Homo sapiens: one gene and its partners. The protein of the gene in region 3 purifies or fractionates together with the protein of the main gene of each other region. This does not show direct contact. Each region holds a gene or a part of one and is shown on either strand. Other genes may lie near its edges.

What was found.
Region 1: the proteins of CRY1 (region 3) and FOXO1 purify together in Homo sapiens (affinity purification with western blotting; 2 studies listed by BioGRID). This does not show direct contact.
Region 2: the proteins of CRY1 (region 3) and HNRNPA3 purify together in Homo sapiens (affinity purification with mass spectrometry; 2 studies listed by BioGRID and IntAct, with this or other methods). This does not show direct contact.

Annotation. Positions count from the first base shown.
Region 1 is NC_000013.11:40,555,010-40,558,641, forward strand, and holds the end of FOXO1 (forkhead box protein O1), read right to left. Parts: 3' UTR 658-3,632; downstream 1-657. UniProt on the Homo sapiens protein: Transcription factor that is the main target of insulin signaling and regulates metabolic homeostasis in response to oxidative stress.
Region 2 is NC_000002.12:177,215,637-177,219,393, reverse strand, and holds part of HNRNPA3 (heterogeneous nuclear ribonucleoprotein A3), read right to left. Parts: coding exon 3,733-3,757; intron 3,645-3,732; coding exon 3,498-3,644; intron 3,417-3,497; coding exon 3,206-3,416; intron 2,892-3,205; coding exon 2,802-2,891; intron 2,719-2,801; coding exon 2,623-2,718; intron 2,535-2,622; coding exon 2,454-2,534; intron 1,690-2,453; coding exon 1,549-1,689; intron 358-1,548; coding exon 235-357; intron 148-234; coding exon 95-147; 3' UTR 80-94; intron 1-79. UniProt on the Homo sapiens protein: Plays a role in cytoplasmic trafficking of RNA. Binds to the cis-acting response element, A2RE. May be involved in pre-mRNA splicing.
Region 3 is NC_000012.12:107,002,887-107,006,643, reverse strand, and holds part of CRY1 (cryptochrome-1), read left to right. Parts: intron 1-1,395; coding exon 1,396-1,538; intron 1,539-3,757.

The DNA of each region.
Region 1 (3,632 bases), on a different chromosome or scaffold from region 3:
GCTTCTGGCTATCACGTCTTTTAAAGAAAGGGTTTCCACTTCCAAAAGTGGGTAAATTTTAAAATACTCTGAAAGTGGGATGGACCCTCAGTGTCTACACAGATAAACAGAATAATCTTTTTCCTTGCTTCTCCAGCTCATTCACTTGTCTGGTCAGAAAGTCAGAAGTTAGGAGAAAGTGGGCTTCACAATGATTTTAAAATGCATCTTAACCATCTTAATCTAATCCTGGCTCATTCCTCAGACATCTTCTGAAAAGAGCAAACATAAACTTCCCACCTACAGCCACTTAAAGGAGGGCTGATCCTCCCCCTTCAGCAAGGTGTGCAGTAGTGACTGGAGGAGCACTTATGACCTTAGCCATGGGGTTCTGCCACTCCATCCACCGCATCTGCTCTGTGACCTCCTAGCCAGACCCTCCTAACTTGCCCTCAAGGTGTTTTTACCTTTAGCAGAGTCTGTTCTAACATAAGACTTAATATGCCTAGTAATTACTGAACCGGATGTACTTTCAGACATTCCAAAGATGAAGTATTCCAGGATTGTTATCAAGGATTGTACTTGTTCCCCATCTCAGGGGACTATAGTTTGGTCCCAGAGGGGCTGTTCCCCTTTTCCTCCAAAGGAAATACCAGATTTGAACCAATGACAACATTGTGGCTGACAAGACTTAACTCAAGTATTTAATAGCTTCACAAAAAATTCCTAATAAAGAGCTTATTCTGCATAATTAGAAAAGAAAGACACCAAGCCATTTAAACATAATTTATGTACATTTATGGCTTTATACAATTATAGCAAAGATTGTTCTTGTGTCTGTAAGTACATCAACATCAGGCACTTCTCAGAGTATCGGAACAAGAACGTGGAATCTGCACTGTTACTAAACTCGGGTAGCGAAATGCAGGAGGCATGACTACGTCCTGATGGGACTTACATGGCCACCCCTGGCCACACTGCCAGGCTGTGCCCACCTCAAGGAGAGGCCAACTGTAATGCCAGGTTGGTCTGTTCGCATAAACCACAATACATTTTTTTTAATGAATGATTATTCCCAAACTAAAACCAGAAAAGAAACTTCTCTTTTAAAATTAGTTATAAATTAAGAACTCTTAGGAGCTTGAATGTAAGAATTTTAAGTTGGGGCTGGGGTTATTGGTAGCATATATCCAGCAGTTGAACAAGTCCAATTTGTATATCGTTGGAGAATGATTTCCATTTTAAGCATCCTTATCCTCTTCTTGGGATGTTCCATTGATTTACTGCTCACTGGGATACATGTGCTCATTTAGACTTTGTCAGTTTGTCAAAGCAGAACTTTCCAAGTAATACATCTATTACCTAAATATATTCCATACGTCTATATTACGGAAACAATACATCTTTATATTTAAAATATCTGAATAGCTCTATAATACAATATGCTTTTAATAACAGTACAAACCAGAGAAAATAAATCAAACAAGGCTGCATAGGTGATATCATTTGCACATTTCACAAAGCAATCATGTACAATAACTGATATATACTCATTACTCCAGAAAGTCAGTATTCTTACAGGAAAAAAACTACCAGAGGCCACATAATGTTTGCTTTCCAGACAGACCAGATGCCTTTCCCTGGACTTCACTGTTCTCAGAGAGCTACCAAGGATTCATGACAGGATTTCAACACACAATGGGGGCTTGGGAGAGGTATAATTACCCAGACTCAGGAGGAAGATATATTTTCCTAAGAGCTACTCCATGAAGTAGTAAGATTTTAACAGTGATTTTGGCTGTAGTTGCCTCTTTAATGAACAAATGGGGGCTCTGAGGTTCCTTGTATTATGATGCAGTAATGGCACGGGAGGAAAGTGACAGTACGTAGTAATAGAAATTAGTACACAAGTACTTTGGCACCAAGTTCAGTTACATACCCGGGAGGCTGTGCTTAGAGGAACTTGGGTTTCTAAAACCAGCTATGTCTTGGACTGCCCCAAAATGAGGATGATAGAGTGGTGGCTGTTCAATGAATCTTCAAAAAAATGATCATCACAGTGGGAAGCTTACAATAGAGCTGGCTTACTGTAGGAAATCTTATCAGGAACACTTGTGTTCTTGTTAAACATTTAGGAAATACCAAGCCAATGAAGATGCAATTAACATACAAGACAAAGCAAGTGTGATGTGGGCTATATACAGAAAAATTAGATCCTTCTCAAGAACACAAGAGGAACAGTGCTGTGCACCTGTTCTCTTCATTGTGATGACTTTGGGCTTTCCACATGACTTGAAAATACTGATGGACTAAATAGGACACAAAGCCAATTAATTTGGTCTGTCAGTTACAGGTAATTGGAAAGTAATAAAACATAATGATAGGAATTACAGTTTAGGTTGCTACAGGCTAAAGAAATTTTCAAATTCTTAAGCCAAGGCTTTTAACATAATCTCAATGCACAACTTACAGCTGGTTTTCAAATAAATCTCCCCAATTTTTAAGTAAGTTCTATTCCATTTGCTACCCATCTGAACTTATGAACACAAATTCTACAAACCACTCAAGTCCCATTTTTAAATTCCCTCCTTCCACTTAAACTTCCACAGTGTGCTAAGTAATCTAATCTGCAGGGCAGAAGGGAGAATGAGATGAAGTATGAGTGTTGACATAATTCCTCAAGGCAGAACTACAAAACCAACCTCCACCTGGACTGAAACAAGAGCAAAGAATTATGAGGGGAAACTTTTGCTAAAGCTCAACTCAAAATGGTGAAGTGGATCAAAATCCCTCGTTTGACAAAGGACCATTGCTTTAGATGCAGATCTCCCTTTTCTGATCTACAAACATTATGAGGCCTCCCAGGACTACAGAGGTCTCTAGAGAAGACTTGATGCTATGCAGTACGCATAGTTCAGTAGAAGCAGATGAAATTTCTTTAAAATACATACATAAAAACATATTAAGTTATCCTAAATAAGAAACGCAAAGTGTCCATAACTATACATCACTTTCCTGCCCAACCAGGGCCTGAAACGTTGAATATGCAAGTACTAATTACAATGATTTAAGATTAGTCAGAAACATCACTAAGTAGCATCCCAAAGTGTACAAACCAGTTAAGCATGTATAAAATTAGTACTAATCCAGTTAGAATACAAAATGAAAATTATGAATGCTGCCCCAAATACCTGTGGTTCCACAAAATTTACAAGCTGACTATGTAACAAAGTAGACTCTAGTTTTAAGAAAACATTATTACAGTTCAATATCTATTCCAAAAATGTTCTTAAGTCCCAACAATAACATCAAAAATCATTTATCTGGAAATTAGAACCATTTAAATGTTTGTACAAATTTGCAAATAACAAAATAAACAAAAAAAAATAGAAAAGACCTGTACAAAGCTGGCATTTAATCTTTTTTTTTCCAAAAGTTTAACAAGTCCATTAATTTAGCAGATTGATAACAGGCTACTTGGTTCTCATGTGAATTCTGTGGCAACGTGAACAGGTCCAAGGCTGTTCAATGGAGATGCAGAATGGAGATTCAGTTCTTTGTGATCCGTCAGTTCCGCAGAAAACAGGTAGTACAAACAAAAGTTTAACTTATCAAGACATGAGGCCCATCACAGTATTACAAAAAGAGTATAA
Region 2 (3,757 bases), on a different chromosome or scaffold from region 3:
AGGATAAAAAAATTATTACACTCAGTGAACAGTTCCACATATTCTTTTATCATCATAATAAAAATTTAAAGATACCTACCCTTTTCTGCTGTTTTTAGAACCTTCTGCTACCATATCCACCACTTCCACCACCAGATCCATAACCACCTGAAAATATACATAGTATTTTAAAAGAAGTATGCACATTTTTTAAATTAAAAAGGCTCTAAAGAATTGATTTAAGAAAGTACTTACCACCATAGGGACTGCCCGAGCTTCTTCCACCAAAACTGCCCCCTTTCATGGGTCCATAATTTGATTGCTGTTGTCCACTATAATTTCCAAAATCATTATAGTTCCCACCACCACCATAGTTACCTGAAATCAGAAAGGTTTTATGTGTGGTTTACCTACACAATCATCATTTTCCCCTTTTAACGTATGTAACTATTATCTTTTGAGAATTATGGTAGCATGCTTATACACATCACTGTGGTAGCACCACTTGGGGTAACTGATGTCAGGATATTAAAAGACCATCAACATTTTGTTTATATTAAATGCTGTCCTCTAGGCGCATGTTCTCTCTACCATTAACACCATTAAAATTGCCAGTGTTCCATTCACTATGATTCTGAAGCAGTATAACATTTAAAACAATGAGAAGGCATTCTAACTTGTTAAAACTTCCACTCATCTGTCATTGACATGTTAATTAGGTCCAATAAAACAGTGCATTCCTAAGAAAGCTTTTAACAGTATTGTGGCTTAATGACCTACATACACTAGCTTGCTTAAACGCTTCAACTACCTGTGACATATTATATTAAGACCCAAAGTACTTTGTTAACCTGGGCCCTAGATGGCAACCTGCTCACTTCAACACGTCTGGAGTATTCAAACAATTTATTCCCGGTTGTCCAGTTTAAAAGTACCAAGGAGTTAAGTAAAATTTTGGCAATAAATAAACTCCCAATCTTTTACACGTAAAACATGTACTGAATACTGGTAAATGTCCATTTTTTACTACTCAACTAAAAATTCAGTACATTTGGCTGAGTGCAGTGGCTCATGCCTGTAATCCCAGTACTTTGGGAGGCAGAAGCGGGCAGATCACAAGGTCAGGAGATCGAGACCATCCTGGCTAACATGGTGAAACCCCATCTCTACTAAAAATGCAAAAAAATTAACCGGGCGTGCTGGCATACGCCTGTAGTCCCAGCTACTAGGGAGGCTGAGGCAGGAGAATCGCATGAACCCGGGAGGCGGAGATTGCAATGAGCTGAGATCACGCCACTGCACTCCAGCCTGGGCAACAGAGCAAGACTCCATCTCAAAAAAAAAAAAAAAAAAAAAAAAAAAGAAAAAAGAGAGCTGAGTACATTTGTACATTTTACTAAATAACCAGCAAAGTCAAGAAAATTTGGTTTGAACTACCAACCATTTTAGTATTTTTCTTATAGAACATAAAATTTGATCAAACGCTTTTAACACTTTCCAAATATGTGTCATGGGAACTGTTAGCAACACTGAATATTTAACATTTAAATAAAACAAGTGAATGCTTACCACCGCCAAAATTTCCTCCTTCATTGTAACCATCATATCCTCCACCTCCACCATATCCACCACCTTGGTTTCCATATCCTGGTCCACCACCACCATAGCCCCCTCTACTACTATAACCAGGACCACCGCCATAGTTGCCACCTAAAAAAACAACAAATAACAAGACCACACAAAAACTTAAGTGTATAGTCACGTTATTCAATTCTGGTGTGTGTGTAAGAGACTGGGTCTTGCTCTGTTGCCCGGGCTCAAGTACAGTGGTGCAACCACAGCAATGCAGCCTTGAACTCCTGGGCTCAAGCCATTCTCCCACCTCAGTCTCCTGAGTAGCTAGACTATGGGCATGTGCCACCATGTTCCCCTATTTTATTTTTCTAGATATACGGTCTCCTTATGTTGCTCAGACTAGTCTCAAAATCCTCACCTCAAGCAACCCCTCTGCCTCAGCCTCCTGAATAGCTAGAATTACTCAACTCTGGTTTTATATTACATTTAAGCCACTGGCAAATAAGCCAATGAATTGATTTAGCACTCTGAAGCCTGGTAATACCTAATAATAATAGAGTATCAAGTATCTGCACTAGTAAGAATGAAAAATAAATGTGTAACCCATCTTCTGATAGTAAAAAAGAAAATCAGTTTTCATTTTACAAAATTTCACTAAGAAAAATATAGTCTCAGACTTAATAGAACAATTCTAGCTCAACCCCTACTACTTGCTGAAAAAGAGCAGCTAATGTCTCTCCAGGGGAAAAAGGGTTCCTGTTCTTCCATGTACAGTTTGGAAATACACCTTAACCATTTAGCCACTGAAGTTTTAACTAAAATTAGAAAAGTGTAATAAATAATTTTCAATAAGTAAAGAAAGTTAAAATATCAAACATCAATGAAAATAAGCCACCTACCATCACCTCCAAATCCATTATATCCACCATCACCTCCTCCATAACTACCTCTGCTGCCACCACCTCCACCACCATAGCCTCCTGAGGAAAAACAAGAAATGAATTAAAATAATATATTCAACTTACCAAAATGTCAGGTATCCATGTACTTAGAAGATAAACAGCCTACCTCTTCCACCAAAGTTTCCACCACGGCCAAAATTACCTCCACCACCTCCAAAGTTCCCTCCGCGACCCATAAAATTGCCAGATCCACCTCCACGACCTTTAATACAGGCAAGGGAGATTTTTAAGAACCTTACAAACACCACTCATATCCACTGTATACATGTGTATGGTCCTACTCACCTCTCTGTGATCCAGCAGACTGCATCTCTTGTTTAGAAAGGGCCTTTTTCACTTCACAATTATGCCCATTAATAGTGTGGTATTTCTGAACTAAATTTTTTTTCAATCAAACAAAACAAAAAGTTATTTTATGTTTGGAAAAGCACATATATGAGATACCCTCTGTCATTATGTAACCCATTAAGACATAATCAGGTAGTGACTCTGGTAATGAAGGAGCATTCTGAGATGTTTATGTTTATTTCTTGATCTGGATACTGATTACACAGGCAGACACTATGAAAATTGACTATACACTATAAATGCCATTACACGCAACAGAAAATTACAATTTAGCAAATTTAGTTCAAAACAGAAAAACCAGTTCTACTTTCTCATTCAAGTTACCATAAATTGCTACTTACCAACAATTTTATCAACTGTATCATGATCATCAAAAGTTACAAAAGCAAATCCTCTCTTTTTTCCACTCTGCCTGTCTTCCATAACTTCTATGGTTTCAATCTTGCCATACTTTTCAAAGTAGTCTCTCAAATTATATTCTTCTGTATCTTCTTTAATACCACCAACAAAAATTTTCTTCACTGTTAGATGGGCACCAGGCTTTACAGAATCCTACAAATAAAGTAATATATTAAGTCAAGAAACAAACTTTCACAACAATTTCACATATTACACAATGTATTATTAAAATACCTCTCTAGAAACAGCTCTCTTTGGTTCCACTACACGCCCATCAACCTTGTGTGGTCGAGCACACATTGCTGCATCCACCTCTTCAACACAAGAATAAGTCACAAAACCAAAGCCCCTGGAACGTTTTGTTTGGGGGTCTCTCATTACCTACAAAATAAAAAGTTTTATAACGTTGAAAACACCTCCACCGGTTCTCTACACCCCTTAGAACCCTTCTGTTCTCTTAGTAACTTACCACACAATCTGTGAGTGTGCCCCAT
Region 3 (3,757 bases):
AAAAAGATTACTAATACATATTATTGGCAAGTGTGTGGAGATCAAGCCTTAGGTGCACTGCTGATGGGAATATAAATTTGTACAGTCTTTCTGGTACATAATTTGACAGCCTATCAGAATTTTGAATGTGCTTATCTTTGATCCATCAGTTGTTTTTCAAGGGATTATTTCTAGGAAAAAATTGGATAAATACCCTATAATTTGTAAGATGTGTGCATAAAGGTAAAGATATATACTGTAAAGTTTATAATAGCAATTTTTTTTTTTTGAGATGGAGCCTCGCTCCTGTCGCTCAGTCTGGAGTGCAGTGGCACACTGCAACCTCCACCTCCCGGGTTCAAGTGATTCTACTTCCTCAGCCTCCCGAGTAGCTGGAATTACAAGCATGTGCCACCATACCCAGCTAATGATTTTATTTTTAGTAGAGACGGGGTTTCACCATGCTGGCCAGGCTGGTCTTGAACTCCTGACCTCAGGTGATCCACCCACCCCAGCCTCCCAGAGTGCTAGGATTACAGGCATGAGCCACCGCACGCCGCCTAGAATAGCAATTTTTTTAAACCCACCATTGGAATAGCCCTTGTCTAATCTGGAGGTGTTTGGTGAATTATAGTATGTTACCATATAGGCAGTTAAATAATGGTAGAATTTTTTCTTTATGAGATAAATCAGAATAGACTTAGAATAAAAAAAAAACTTTCTCCTTAAGAAAAATCAATTCCTTTAAGTCACAGTTTCCTCATTTAAAATCAGTATAAGGAGATGTACAGAACTTATTAACATAGCTCCTGATAATAAGTAACTGCTATTATTATTACCATCTCCAAATTTTTCAGTTAACGTTTTTTAGTAATCAGAAAGAAAATATTTACATACACACACACACACGACCTCAGCCAGGCAGCTTATACCATATCAATATCAAAGGTTAGTTAAAGACCAGTTCTTAGACTCAACAGACATAAATTCAGGTGGTCTGGCTTTCTGTGAACTCTGGCAGGTCCCTAAGTTTTAAAAATAAACTTATCTCCAAAATGGAAATACTAACCAAAGTGCCAAACTCTGAGTGTTGTTTTGAGGCTCAAATGAAATAATGTAAGTATGAGTAATTTGAAAAAGTAAAGTGCTCTACAAACACATTTAGTATAAGAGCTGGTTTTAAGCATATTGCTTTGCTAGATTGTTGCCTAGCATAATGCCTAGAATCTAATGGGTTATGCATTCATTACTTATGTATTTTTTAATTGATAAATTGTTTACTTTTTCCTGCATATTCAAAGTTTGATTTATGTATAATCCTTTGATATGTAGATTTTCAGCTTTTTCACTTTTCGTTATAATAGAAAAAATAACTATTACAATTGGTGTACATTGTTCCCCTTTCTCTTACTTTAGGAATGGAACATTACTAAACTTTCAATTGAGTATGATTCTGAGCCCTTTGGAAAGGAACGAGACGCAGCTATTAAGAAACTGGCAACTGAAGCTGGAGTAGAAGTCATTGTAAGAATTTCACATACATTATATGACCTAGACAAGTGAGTCCTTTTTTTTTTTTTACTGTGGGAAAATGCGTATAACATAATATTTACCATCTTAACCATTTTTAAGTATATAGTTCGGTGGTATTAACTACATAGATAAGTTTTTAACTGAGGTTTATAAAGTAGAAATAACATGTACTTCACAGAGTTATGGGAGAATTAAGTGAACATATGTCAAATCCTTAGCATTTTATTTAGCTGCTATTGACCCAATGACAGGTATCAGCATTTCAGTTTCAAAACTATTATGGATTAAGACTATTACAGAATTTTCCTTGACTACTCTTAACTCAGCCTCCTGTGGTCTTGCCTTTCTGGGCTCTTAGCATTATCAATTTTATAGTTATATATAGTTATAAATTGCCTTGACATATTTTGTATGCTTGTTTAATGTTATCTTATTTCATGTATATCTATTATGTCTGTCTGGATTTTAAATCCAGATGCAAATTGGATGTAATATAACATTGCATAGCTGTAGTCCTCTGAACAATGGCATAATAGAATATTTCCCAAAGTGTATTTCTTCCAGCACCAGTCCTTGGTGATGCTTTGTCCCACAGAAATTCTGTGGTCAAACTTAAATTTAGGGAGTGTTATATGCTATGAGTCTTAGAGGTCTGTAAAACTTAACTTTTTAAAACTTTTGGCATACCATTGTCCTTTTAAGTACTGAAATCTTATAATTTATTTACCTTTTAAATCATTTTACTTTTTTAGTAATTTATGTATTTTATCAAGTTAGTAAAACAAATTCTGTAACATGACAAACTAGTTGATTTGATTTCACATTTTAAATGTATCAAAAAATCATGATTTGATTCAGACAAAGGTCTTGATACTAAGCTAGAATTCATATATCTTTTAATAATAATCTTGCCTTCGAGCTCACCAATTTGCTTAACTTTAAGGAGCTCATAGCAAGGAGGGGGCAACACAGGATAAAAGCAGTTGCTTCTAAGTGGGAGACTCAGTGTTATGCATAAAATTGTTTAGGCTAGGCGCGATGGCTCACACCTGTAATCCCAGCACTTTGGGAGGCCGAGGCAGATGGATCACGAGGTCAGGAGTTCAAGACCAGCCTGGCCAAAATGGTGAAACCCTCATCTCTACTAAAAATACAAAAATTAGCCAGGCATAGTGGCGGGTGCCTGTAATCCAGCTACTTGGGAGGCTGAGGGAGGAGAATCACTTGAACCCGGGAGGCAGACGTTGCAGTGAGCCAAGATAGCACCACTGCATTCCAGCCTGGGCAATAGAGCAAGACTCTGTCTCAAAAAAAAAAAAAAAAATCAAGTGTTTATTGGATTGAATGTGAATATTTACTATATGTAATCTATCATATTAAAATGTAACATATAGAAAATGTTTTGTCCTAAGATTCTCATTTTGCTACTGTTGTGTAATTAACAATGTCCTCAGTAGTATTATTGTAGCATCATTACATTCAGCAAAATTCATTGCAACCCTATGAATAAATTCAAAATACACCAAAACAAAATTTACTTAAACAGGATATCTTTTATGGTGATTGCTTTCTGTATTACTTTCTGTATGTATCTGTAGTTGATACATCACTACGTATTGTATAATGAAAAATACACTAAAATACACTAAGAAAACCTTGATTTGCCGTTTATCAGTTATATGACCTTGACTAGTTTACTTAACTCTCCTGGTAGGCCTGTTTTCACATCTATAAAATGATGGAGTTGGATTTCACCTGTCATTTTTTATTAAGGCCAAATGCTAAGCAAATGGCCATAGTGAAAAAGAGTAGTTATTCCAAAAGAGTGTCTAAACTTAATCTTTAACTACCATTGGCAAAGCTAGTTATTTTTTTAATTAATAATTGATTGAGTTAATTAATGATCAGAAGTAAAAAGATACTTAAATTTAAATAACTTGAAATTTGGGGGCTTATGTGTTCTAAGTATGTGACATAGATACATATGCTGACATCTCTCATGCCTTCATTAGCACAATAGAAAATAGGAAGTAATTGTCACCACAGTAATATAGAATCAAAATTTATAAAATTTGCTGAAGGAAATAGGGTAATTGTTTTAGTCTGTTTTCACGATGCTGATAAAGACATACCCGAGACTGGGCAATTTACAAAAGAAAGATTTAATGGACTTACAATTCCACACGGCTCAGAAGGCCTCACAATCATGGTGGAAGGCAAGGAGGAGCAAGTCATGTCTTACATG